Regions from separate parts of the Homo sapiens genome. Here region 2 is linked to region 1. A link means that fine-mapping ties the variant in region 1 to the expression of a gene that starts in the linked region. Tissue or cell type: transverse colon. Region 1 holds a variant in brackets; the other region holds the start of a gene. All regions are shown on one strand. Distances are from middle to middle.

Region 1 (5,150 bases):
ACCCAGGTGATGTGAGTCTCCTGCCTGAGCCCTGCTCACAGAGGGCATTGTGACATACTTCTGACTTCATCAACTATTTGATGTGACTCTCCTATCTTACCTGGGCTTTGCCCATAAGAAAAAATGTGACATATCTCTGGGACCAAAACCTAGGTGATGTGACTCTCTTCTGACAGGGTCATGCCCACAGAAGAAAGATGGCTTATTGCCAAACCCAGCACACAGGTGAGGTAATCCTGTCTGGTCCCTGCCCACAGGGGTTATTTTGACATATCTCTAAGCCCATCAGCTAGATTACGTGACTGTCTTCTTCCTGTAAACTGTACAGAGAGAATATTGTGACATATCACTTGGTCCAGAACCTATGTGATGTGACTGTCATGACTGGGCCCTGTCATTTGGGGTGATTGTGAAACAGGTGGCATGAGCAGGACCTAGGTTATGTAACACTTTTCTTCTCTCTTAGCCCTACACACAGATGACAATGTAGCATATCTCTGGGTCTTTCACATAAATAATTTTACTTTTTTGCCTGGGCCATGTCCGGTAACATATTGCTGGACCTAGAAACTAGGTGATGTGACTCTCCTCTACTGCTTAGGCTCTGGCAAAAAAAAAAAAAAAAAAAATTGTGGTGTATTGCTGGGCCAGTACCTAGGTAATGTGACATTTTTCTATTGCCTGGGCCCTGTGTATTCTGGGTATTCTGACATATCGCTGGGCCCAACATGTAGGGAATGGGAGTACCACCTGGGCCCTGCTCACATGGGGCCTTGTGACATATCTCTTTATCCATCACCTAGGAAATGTGTCTCTCCTCTTCTGCCTGCACCTTGCCAACAGAGAAAATTGTGACATATTACTGAGCCTAGCAACCAGGTGATGTGTCTCTCCTGCCTGGGCCTGGCTGACAGAAAGCAGTGTGATATATTCCCGGGCCCAGCAAACAGGTAATGTGACTCTCCTGCCTAGTCCCTGGCCTCCAGGAAGATTTTGACATATTCCTGGCTCCAAAAAACAGGTGACGTGACTCTACTTATCATTCCCTATCCACGGGTGTAATTGTCACATTTATCTTGGCCTAGCTCACAGATGGCATAAGTCTCATACCTTGAACCAGCCAATAGCAGAGATCCTGTGTCTCTTAGCAAGGCTTAGGCAAATAGGTGAGTTCATGGGCCTCCGCTTTATAAAGATTGTAAATGCCATTCTCTTGCATATTGTGTAAAGGTCTTGAATGGTACAGAAAGTGTCATTACAGAGCCTAGCACACAGGTAAGGTTGTGTTTCTCATATGCTCACCCTAAAAACCCTTAGTATTGTCAACCTCCCACATGGATGGAACTCACTAATGAGGTTCTTAATCTCACAAACACAGTCCATAGTTGAAATTGTGACTGTCATATGTGAACATTCAGCCAGAGTTGAAATGGTGAAACATTTCTAAACCCAGCTCCTAGGCAGGTAAGGCATCTTCTTTCTGGACTCAGCCAATTGGAGACATGTTGACTCTCATACCTGGGCTTAGGGCCACAAGTACAATCATGGGTCCATACCAGCATGAAGGTCTCAGACAAGATTGCACTCCCATGCATACAGTACAAAGCCCTCAAGTAGGACAGAGAATGTTCTAATAGACCTCAGGACACAGGTGAGATTGTGACACTCATAAGCACACCCAGCCAACAGTAATGATTGTCACCCTCCCACATGAACACAACACATTGTTGAGATTCTGAACCCCACAATAAAAAAAAAGTGCCAAAAGTTGAACAATTGTCTCATCGTTTATTTCAGTCCACAGGTGGGTTATTGACACTCAGACCAAGATTCAGTACACCTGAAAGACTGTGACTCCACTAAGAAAACAGTCTGTGAGAGGAATTGAGGCTCTCGTCCATGGATCTAGTCCACTGTTGAGATTGTGAATCATGTACTTAGGCCCAACATAAAAGAGGTGTTGATTCTCATACCTGGAACCTGGACATGTGCAGGATTGTTAATCTCATTTATGAACATTCCTGCAGCTGTGATTGTGACATATGCCTCTGCCCAGCACCTGAGTGATTGAATTCTTCTGCCTGGGCTCAGCCCACAGATTGGATTGTGAAACATTGCTGAACCCAGGACCTAACTAATGTAAATCTATTCTCCTGCCTTGGCACTGCCCACTGGGAACCCTGTGACATATTGCTGCACCCAACACCCAGGTTATGTGGCTCTCCTGCCAGTGCCTTGCCCACACGGGCTGTTGTGACATATTGCTGGGTCCACACCCAGGTGATATAATTCTCTTGCCTAGGCCCTGCTTACAGAGAGCATTGTGACATATCTTTCTGCTCATCACACAGTTAATAAGACAGTTTCTGCCTGGTTTCTCCTTACAGGGTGTATCAAAACAGATTGCTAGGCCCAGCACCTAGCTGATGTGACTCTTTCTAGGTTTTGCCCACAAGGAACATTGTGACATATCACTGGGCCCAACA[G/T]CAAGGTGATGTTGCCCTTTTGCTTTGGCCTTGCTCTCAGAAAGCATTGTGACATATTGCTGAACCCAGCACCAAGGTGATGTGAGTTGGTATGCCTGGACCCTGCTAACAAGAGGCATTGTGACATACTTCTGGGACCATCATCTATTTGATGTGACTCTCCTTTTACCTGGGCTTCTGTTGTAAAAGAGATTGTGACATAACTCTGGGCCTAACAGCTAGGTAATGTGACTTTTCTTTTGCTTGGACCATGCCCAAGGAAAGAGAGTGATGTATTACTAAGCTCATCACATACGTGGTGTAATTTCTTCTGCTCGGTCTTTGCCCACAGGAATCATTTTGCTGTATTTCTGATTCATCACCTAGTTGATGTGACCTTTCTTTTTTCAGACTTGTCTGCAGCGCAGATTGCTACATATTGCTTGGCCCAGCTCCTATGTGATGTGACTCTCCTGTCATACCTGAGTGCTCCCCACTGCGGTAATTGTGACATATAGCTGGGCTCTGGCCCTAGTTTATGTAACTTTTCTTCCTGACTGCTACTCACCTGGGGGCATTGTGACATATCTCTGAACCTCTCACCTAAGTGATGTGAATCTCCTGCTTGAGCCCACTTCTCAGGGAGTATTATTATATATTGTCACACACAGCAACTAGGTGATATGACTCTCTCTACAGCTTGGACTCTGCCCAATAAAAAACTGTGATGTATCACTGGACCCAGCACCAAGGCTATGTGACTCTCCTGCCGGGGCTCTACATTCATTGTTTTTGTGACATACGGCTGGGAATAATGTCTAGGTCATGTGACTGTCCTGCATGGACCCTGCCCACAGGGGTATTATGACACATTTTTTTAGTCATCTAGGTGATGTGACTCACTTCTGCCTGGGCCCTGCCAGAAAGAATGATAGTGACTTATCACTGAACCCAGCACTTAAGTGATGTGACTCTCCTCTTTTGCCTGGACCTTGCATGTTTTTGGTATTGTGACATATTGCTGGGCCCAACACCTAGGAAATGAGACATTTTTGCTTCAGCCCTGACTACAGGCAGCTTTCTGACATTACTCTGTATCCATCACATAGGGCATACGTCTCTCATCTCTTCTGCCTGCACCTGCCCACAGGGAAGATGGTGACATAACACAACAACTAGGTGATGTGTCTCCAGCCTGGGCCTAGCCCACCAGAAGTATTGTGACAGCTGGTTTCTGAGCCCAGTGATATGTTACAATGCTCCCTGTGGAGCCCCCTGTGACACCTGGTCTCAGAAACTAGGTGATGTGACTACTGCCCAAGCCCTGCTTTTAGAAAGGAATTGTGACTTATCACTGGCCAAATGTGACATGAGCCTCCTGCCTGGTCCTTGCTTTCAGAGAAGACCATGACATATCTCTGTTCCAGCACCCAGGTGATGTGATAATACTGCCTGGGCTCTCCCCTCAGGAAGTATCAAGACATATTTCTGGACCCAGCCCATAGGTGGTATGACTGTCCTCCACTACTTAGACTCTGCCCAAGAAGCGACTATGATGTATCAATATTCCCAGCACTTAGATGATGTAACTCTCTTATGCTTGGGCCCTGTTCACATAGTATATGAAACATATGTCTGGGTCCATCACCTAGTTGATGTGACTCTTCTGCATGGGCTCTGTCCATGGAGATATGAAATATTTTTTCATTCATCCCCTGCCATTTCTCTTTTGTGCCTCTTTTGCCTGGGCCTTGCCAAAAAGAGGATTATAATGTATCACTGGACCCAGAACCTAGGTGAGGTGACTCCTATTTTGCCTGGGGCTCACATATTTGGGTATTGTGATATAGGGGATGGATGGGAGGCACATGAGTGGGCTTTGCTCACAGAAGGCCTTGTGACATCTCAGCATTCATTACCTAGGAAATGTGACTATTGTCTTCCATTTGCACCCTGCTTACAGGGAAGATTGTGACATATTGCTGGACCTAGCAACCAGGTGATGTGTCTCTCTTGCCTGAACCCTGCCCACAGGGAGCATTGTAACATATCTCTGGGCTCAGCAGCCAAGGGATGTTACTATCCTTCCCGGTCCCTGCCCTCAAGTAATATTGTACAAATCTTTGGCCCAGCACCCGGGTGATGTGACTCCCCTGCTTATTACCTACCTGCACGTGGATTTGTTACACATAATGTTGTTCCAGCTCATAGGTGTGATGATGACTCTCATATATTGAACCAGCCAATAGTTGATACAGTCTCTCATAGCTAGGCTTAGAAAAATGGATAAGATTCTGGGTCTTCTGTTTTTATAAAGGTCAGAAAGGAGTATCACACTCTCACATATGGTATAAAGTCTTCAGGTTGTACACAGTGTGTCATTGCAGAGCCCAGTGCACAGGTGAGATTTACTTGTGTGTATGCACACCCTACTATCCATTAAAATTGTAATTCTCACAGACGGACAGACCCTACTTGTAATCTCACATATGGATGCAGTCCACATTTGGAATTGTCATATGTGAACATCCAGCCAGATATGGGATAGTAAAACATTTTTAAATGCAGCTCATAGAAAGGTGAGGGCTCTCCTATCTAGACACAGAAAATTAGGGAGATGTTGACTCTTATACCTGGGGTTAAGAACACAGATATGATTATAGGTTCATACCAGCACAAATGTCT
Region 2 (5,150 bases), 300 kb before region 1:
CCTCGAAGGGACACCCAAAAGTGAGTAGTCATCCCCATCACCACCCGACAGCACAGGGTGTTGCCTCCATCCTGGACACATTTTCCAGTTATCTGGTGATGGGAAACCCTGCCAGAAAGGATTATATGGATGGGAGTGAGCCTGGGATGGGCAGGGCTGGAACCAGAATCCTGAGGCTTGGGAGAAGAGAATCAGGACTACACCCTTAGATCTCAGCACTTGGCAAACTTCCTCTCATGAGAGCGTCACGGCTGCCTCTGTGAGCTGAGGTATCAGGCCCCTCTTCCCTATGAATGTTGAAGATTCCACACCAGCCACCAGTCCCTGTTCCCTGAGTGATGAAGCTGCAGAGCTGTCTGCTTGCAAAGCCCAGTGAGGTTTTGCCTGAGCTGGACTCAGACTCTCCCTCAGATGGTGCCAATGGAAGGATAGTAAACTTAGGCCTCTCCAAGGGCAGGCAGCTCGTATGTGGCTGAGCACTTTTGTTTTTTGTTTTTTGGTTTTTTTTGAGATGGAGCCTCCTCTGTCACCCAGGCTGGAGTGCAGTGGCATGATCTTGGCTCACTGCAAACTCCGCCTCCCAGGTTCAAGCAATTCTCTGCCTCAGCCTCCTTAGTAGCTGGGATTACAGGTGCCCACAACCACGCCCAGCTAATTCTTGTATTTTTAGTAGAGACGGGGTTTTGCCATCTTGGCCAGGCTGGTCTTGAACTCCTGACCTGGTGATCCACCATCCTCAGCCTCCCAAAGTACTGGGATTACAGGTGTGAGCCACCGTGCCTGGCCTGGCTGAGCACTTTTTTAAATGGGAGCCCTCAGTTTTTATGTCTGTCATCAAAGAGAGTTGGGGTGGGAGGTCCCTGAGCCTCAGCTCCCATTGTCCCCTTTGAACCCCAGAACCTGCTGCAGACCCAAGTCCTGCTTTGTGCACATCCCCTGCCCCTGGTGGCCCTGGCAGTAATGCAGTATGAAGAGTGTGGGGAGGGGACCTAGTCAGGGTCCAAGGGGCCTTTCTGATGACCATTGGCTGACTTCTAGGGAAATGTAACACCCAGAAAGAAAAGGAAGGTGAGCAGCTGGGGCAACATTGGGAGAGAGTGGGGAGGTGAAAGTCAGCAACACCCTGTGCTATCAGGTGGTGATGGGGATGAGTATCCACTTTTGGGTGTCCATTCAAGGCCTGTCCCTGAAATCTCATAAGCCCCCATCTCCTGGACTCTCCTATCCACATCTTTTACTTGAAAAAGCCAAAGACACGCAGCTGCCTCTCTCCAACTCTCTCCCCTCTTCCTAGCTGGCCTCCAAAAACATGAAGCACTCCCTTATTAACTCTGTGGTGAGATTTTAACAAGTCACAATGTTATGTGGTCCCTAGCTCCACCGTTTCCCAAATCCACTCAGCCCAGCTCTTCCAGGCCTTTACTCTGATTTCTCTTATAGAGGCATTTCAGGGACTGTTGCCACAGGAGGGAAGGGCTGAGGGAGAAAGGCCCCTTGCTCTTTTGATGTGGAGGCCTCCAGCTGGGAGGGAGGAGCTCTTCCCTCTGAATCCCTGGAGCTCTTCCCCATCACAGGTACCTGCCTTTTTGCTGCTTTAGCCTCATCTGGGCTTTCTGTGGTTTCTTCTCTAGGGTGGCCAACTTGGGTGTCTTCCTCTGCCAGGGTCAAGGACAAGGTCAGTGATATTATGCTCCCTTCACCCAGTTATGCCCAGTTACATTGACCTGGTACCCTGGATAACTGGTGTGAGTCAAGCTGGTCCAGTGCTCCTGCCACCTCCAGTAAACTCTGATTCTAGATTCACTCCCTGCTGCAACACTCACTGTGTGTGGAACCTTGGGCATGCAGCCAGGCCTCCCTGAGACTGTTTCTCAACTTGAAAGTGTGATGGGAACCACACCTACCTCACTGGGCCTCGTGAGGACTCAGTTATATGTAGCCGTCACCATTGTTCTCATCATCATCTCTCTCAGGAAGAGCCAGGCACAAGCACTCTCAAATTTTTCTCCTTTGAAGCTCCTCATTACCCTGTGAGGCTCATCATCCCTACATTTTTTAGATAAGAAAACAGAGGCCCAAAGAGGGCAGTGACTTGCCCAGGGCTCTACAGAAGAGGCCGGCTCCTCCCCACACCTGGAGGCCCTGACCTAGCTGACTTTACCCCACAGCCCAGCACTATCCCTGACTAGGGTCCCATCTTGGTTCTCCATGCTTGTTTAGGTCCTCAGGCAGGCTCAGCTTTGGTGGGAAAGAGACAGGGTGTTTTGGGAGGCCTGGGCGAGTGGCACCTCTAACCAATCTGCTAGGCCCTCACCTCTCAGTCTCACTGAGACACTCCATTAATTGGAAGCAGACCCAAAATTGCTTCACAGACTGAAGGTGATAATTGTCTACAGCCAGCTGAAGCAGCTGCATCTCCTGGAGGACTTTGATCTCCTGCAGCTAAAGGGAAAGACAGGATGCTGAGACAGGGCCTGCAGCATACACATAACTATAATTCAGAATGTAATATATACACACACACGAAAATATAATCAGAAAGTGATATAATCTTATATGCAAGGTTAAATACAAATGTCTCTCAGGCAGGGCCAGGCCCCCAGCACAGGGAGGACTCGCCTGAAAACGCTGCAGGCAAAAACCTGTCACCCTTGCCTCATTCAGCCCAGTGTCTGATTACATCTTCTGTCACTTAGGATTGAAACGGGTGGGGCCTGGAGCCCTAGCCAATCAGTGGCGCCAGCGTGAAACTGTCCAATCAAGTGCGCAGCTACAGAGGAAGAGGCGGCCTCTTCAATATGGCGGGGCCTTTGTCTCCTAGCTTCCGGGCTCTGATCCTAGTTCGCGTCTCCACTGTTCCATCTCCTCCGTTCCTGGAGTTCCTCGGTGACTCTACTATAGCTTCTGTTATCCTGTGACCTGCAGGTACTGGGAGATCCATAGGGAGGACGGCGGAACATCTGGAGGCTGGGAAATGGTGAGTGCGTGGAGTGGGTGTCCCGAGAATGGGGAAGAGGCTGTTTGAATCCGGCCGGAACCGGCTGCGGTGGTATCTGGGCCTTCTCGCGGTCTGCTCTGGAGTCTGCATCCCCGAGTCCCCGCGGGCACAGCTCAATCCTCATTTCCCTCCATCGCAGATTAGGGGCTGAGCCAGCAGCCAAAACGCTACGTCTTGTTTTGTCCCTAAACTCGAATTTCTCCCCAGCTCAGATCCCTTCCTGGGCAGCTCTGTGCCGCAACCTCGAGTCTCCCTCCTCCAGATTGTGTGGGGGTGTTGGGAGTGTCATAAGACGGGAATTCTCATTTAGGGTCTGGAGTTCCTCCGTGGAAGAAGCAGTGGGCCGTGGGGTCCCTAGTCCCTCCTTTCTCCTTTTAAAAATAAAATCATGGCCCTTTTTTAAATTTATTTATTTTTGAGACAGTGTCTCACTCTGTTGCCCAGGCTAAAGTGCATTTCGGTTCACTGCAGCCTCCACCTACTGGGCTCAGATGATCCTCTCACCCCAGCCCCCCAAGTAGCTAGGACTAGAGGGGTGCGCCACCACGCCTATTTTGTTTTGTTTGTTTTTGTAGAGACAGGCTTTTGCCATGTTGCTCAGGCTGGTCTCGAACTCCCCGAGCTCAGGTCTCAGGTGATCCGCCCGCCTCGGGCCTCCTAAAGTGCCGGGATTACGTGCATGACCCACCACCCTAGCCTAAATTGAGGCAACTTTAGGATATAATTTGGATGTGTTTTCCAGCCCAAATCTCCTATTTAAATGTAATCCCCCATGTTGGAGGTGGGGCCTGGTGGAAGGATTGTGGGCCCGGATTTCTCACGAATAGTTTAGCACCATTCCTCTTGGTATTGTCCTCTCAATAGTGAGTGAGTTCCCTGAAGTTCATCATTTAGAAGTGTACAGCACCCCACCTTGCCTCTTTTTCAAGCTCTTGCTTCACCTTCATCCATGATTTTAAGCTTTCTGGGTGGGGCCTCCCCAGAAGCAGACGCTGGTGTTATGCTTTCTATGCAGCCTGTGGAACCATGAGCCAATTAATCCTCTTATAAATTACCCAGTCTGAGGTATTTATAGTAATGCCAGAAGCGATTAATACAAATAGTTTACTTGCACAAACAGTAATTTATCAATCAGAGAACACCCAGCTATGATTTGTTGTTTGGGGGCTCAAAGGAGGGTCTTGGAACAAAAGGTTGTTTTTTTTTTTTAAGAGGTATGAGGAAGCAAACCAGATTCAATATTTGATTGGTTACAGTTACGTATTGCATTTGCAGCCCTCCGGTGGAAATGTCCTGGTTATGTAATTAGAGCTTTTTATTGGCAGCTTGTGGTTGGTTAAGCCTAAGTTGTTTTGTTGTTGTTGTTGTTGTTTCTCAAAGTTAATAATTTACCAGAAATTCCTTCGACGTAGTTAGGTTTCCTTAGGCAGAATCCCAGGGCACCATGGCCACTTCAGCCTAATTGCTAGCTATTTAATTATTTTAATGCTCCACAGGGTCGTTGGTTTTCTCTGCATTTTTCAAATGTTTGGCAAGCAGGGTCTCAAATCTAAAACTGTTCTCCCAGCCTAACTGTTCTAGGGACTGTATAAAATTCTAAATTTCCAATTTCTTTCCCACATTCCCAAATGCCAACTATCCCTCTCCAAATCACATTATGAACTATCAGTTCTTTATTTAATTTTAAAACGGATGTGGCATTTTGTTTATTTTTGTTTAACAGAGCCGTGGGTGGCTCTTTTTAATATATTAGTCTGTTTGTGCATATTTCACAGGACAGAAAAGCAAAGAGTAGTCACCTGACACTGCGCATCTCCTCTCATCTTCTCTAGGCACGCGCGCCTTCCCAGAATGTCTTTGGATCCTTTGCAGGGTGATGTGTCCTCAGTCACTCTCCTGTGTTTTCCTGGTCCAAGTATTACAGCTTTCTGGGGATGATCCAAGATACCCACAAGGACCATATCTCTTGGAGTGTCTAGCAAACATTAGCCCCTGGGTCATCTCCTTTCAGAGAAGAGCCTGAGGCATTGGGTGGAGCCTCTCAGGGGAGCAGCTGGATGCCCTCGTGCTGAGAGCAGTTTCCTGATTCACCCTTCCTCTAAAAAGCTAACTGCTTTAACATTAAGATTTTTTTCCCCTCAATCCTAGTTTT

Alleles and levels. Positions count from the first base shown, and alleles are read on the strand shown. Sizes are in standard deviations (SD) of each study's normalised expression.
As copies of G replace T in region 1, the expression in transverse colon of the gene that starts at base 2,785 in region 2 goes down (moderate effect, 0.74 SD a copy in GTEx).

What was found. PIP is the estimated chance that this variant, and not a neighbour inherited with it, causes the effect.
Region 2: ZNF736 starts here. The variant in region 1 is fine-mapped to the expression of ZNF736 in transverse colon (GTEx, PIP above 0.99). The same link has a PIP of 0.9 or more in spleen.

The regions. Positions count from the first base shown.
Region 1 is chr7:64,611,623-64,616,772 of GRCh38, forward strand. LOC100128885 (a long non-coding RNA gene) reads left to right here. Exons shown (of 3, transcript NR_077227.1): 3 at 2,877-5,150. Among named protein-coding and RNA genes, the nearest start is that of ZNF680, 51 kb to the left of the region's middle. The variant G/T (reference allele first, on the strand shown) is at 2,487.
Region 2 is chr7:64,311,177-64,316,326 of GRCh38, forward strand. It overlaps ZNF736 (zinc finger protein 736), which reads left to right and starts at 2,785. Exons shown (of 4, transcript NM_001170905.3): 1 at 2,785-2,977. The coding sequence starts at 2,975. RefSeq lists an enhancer at 2,838-3,017.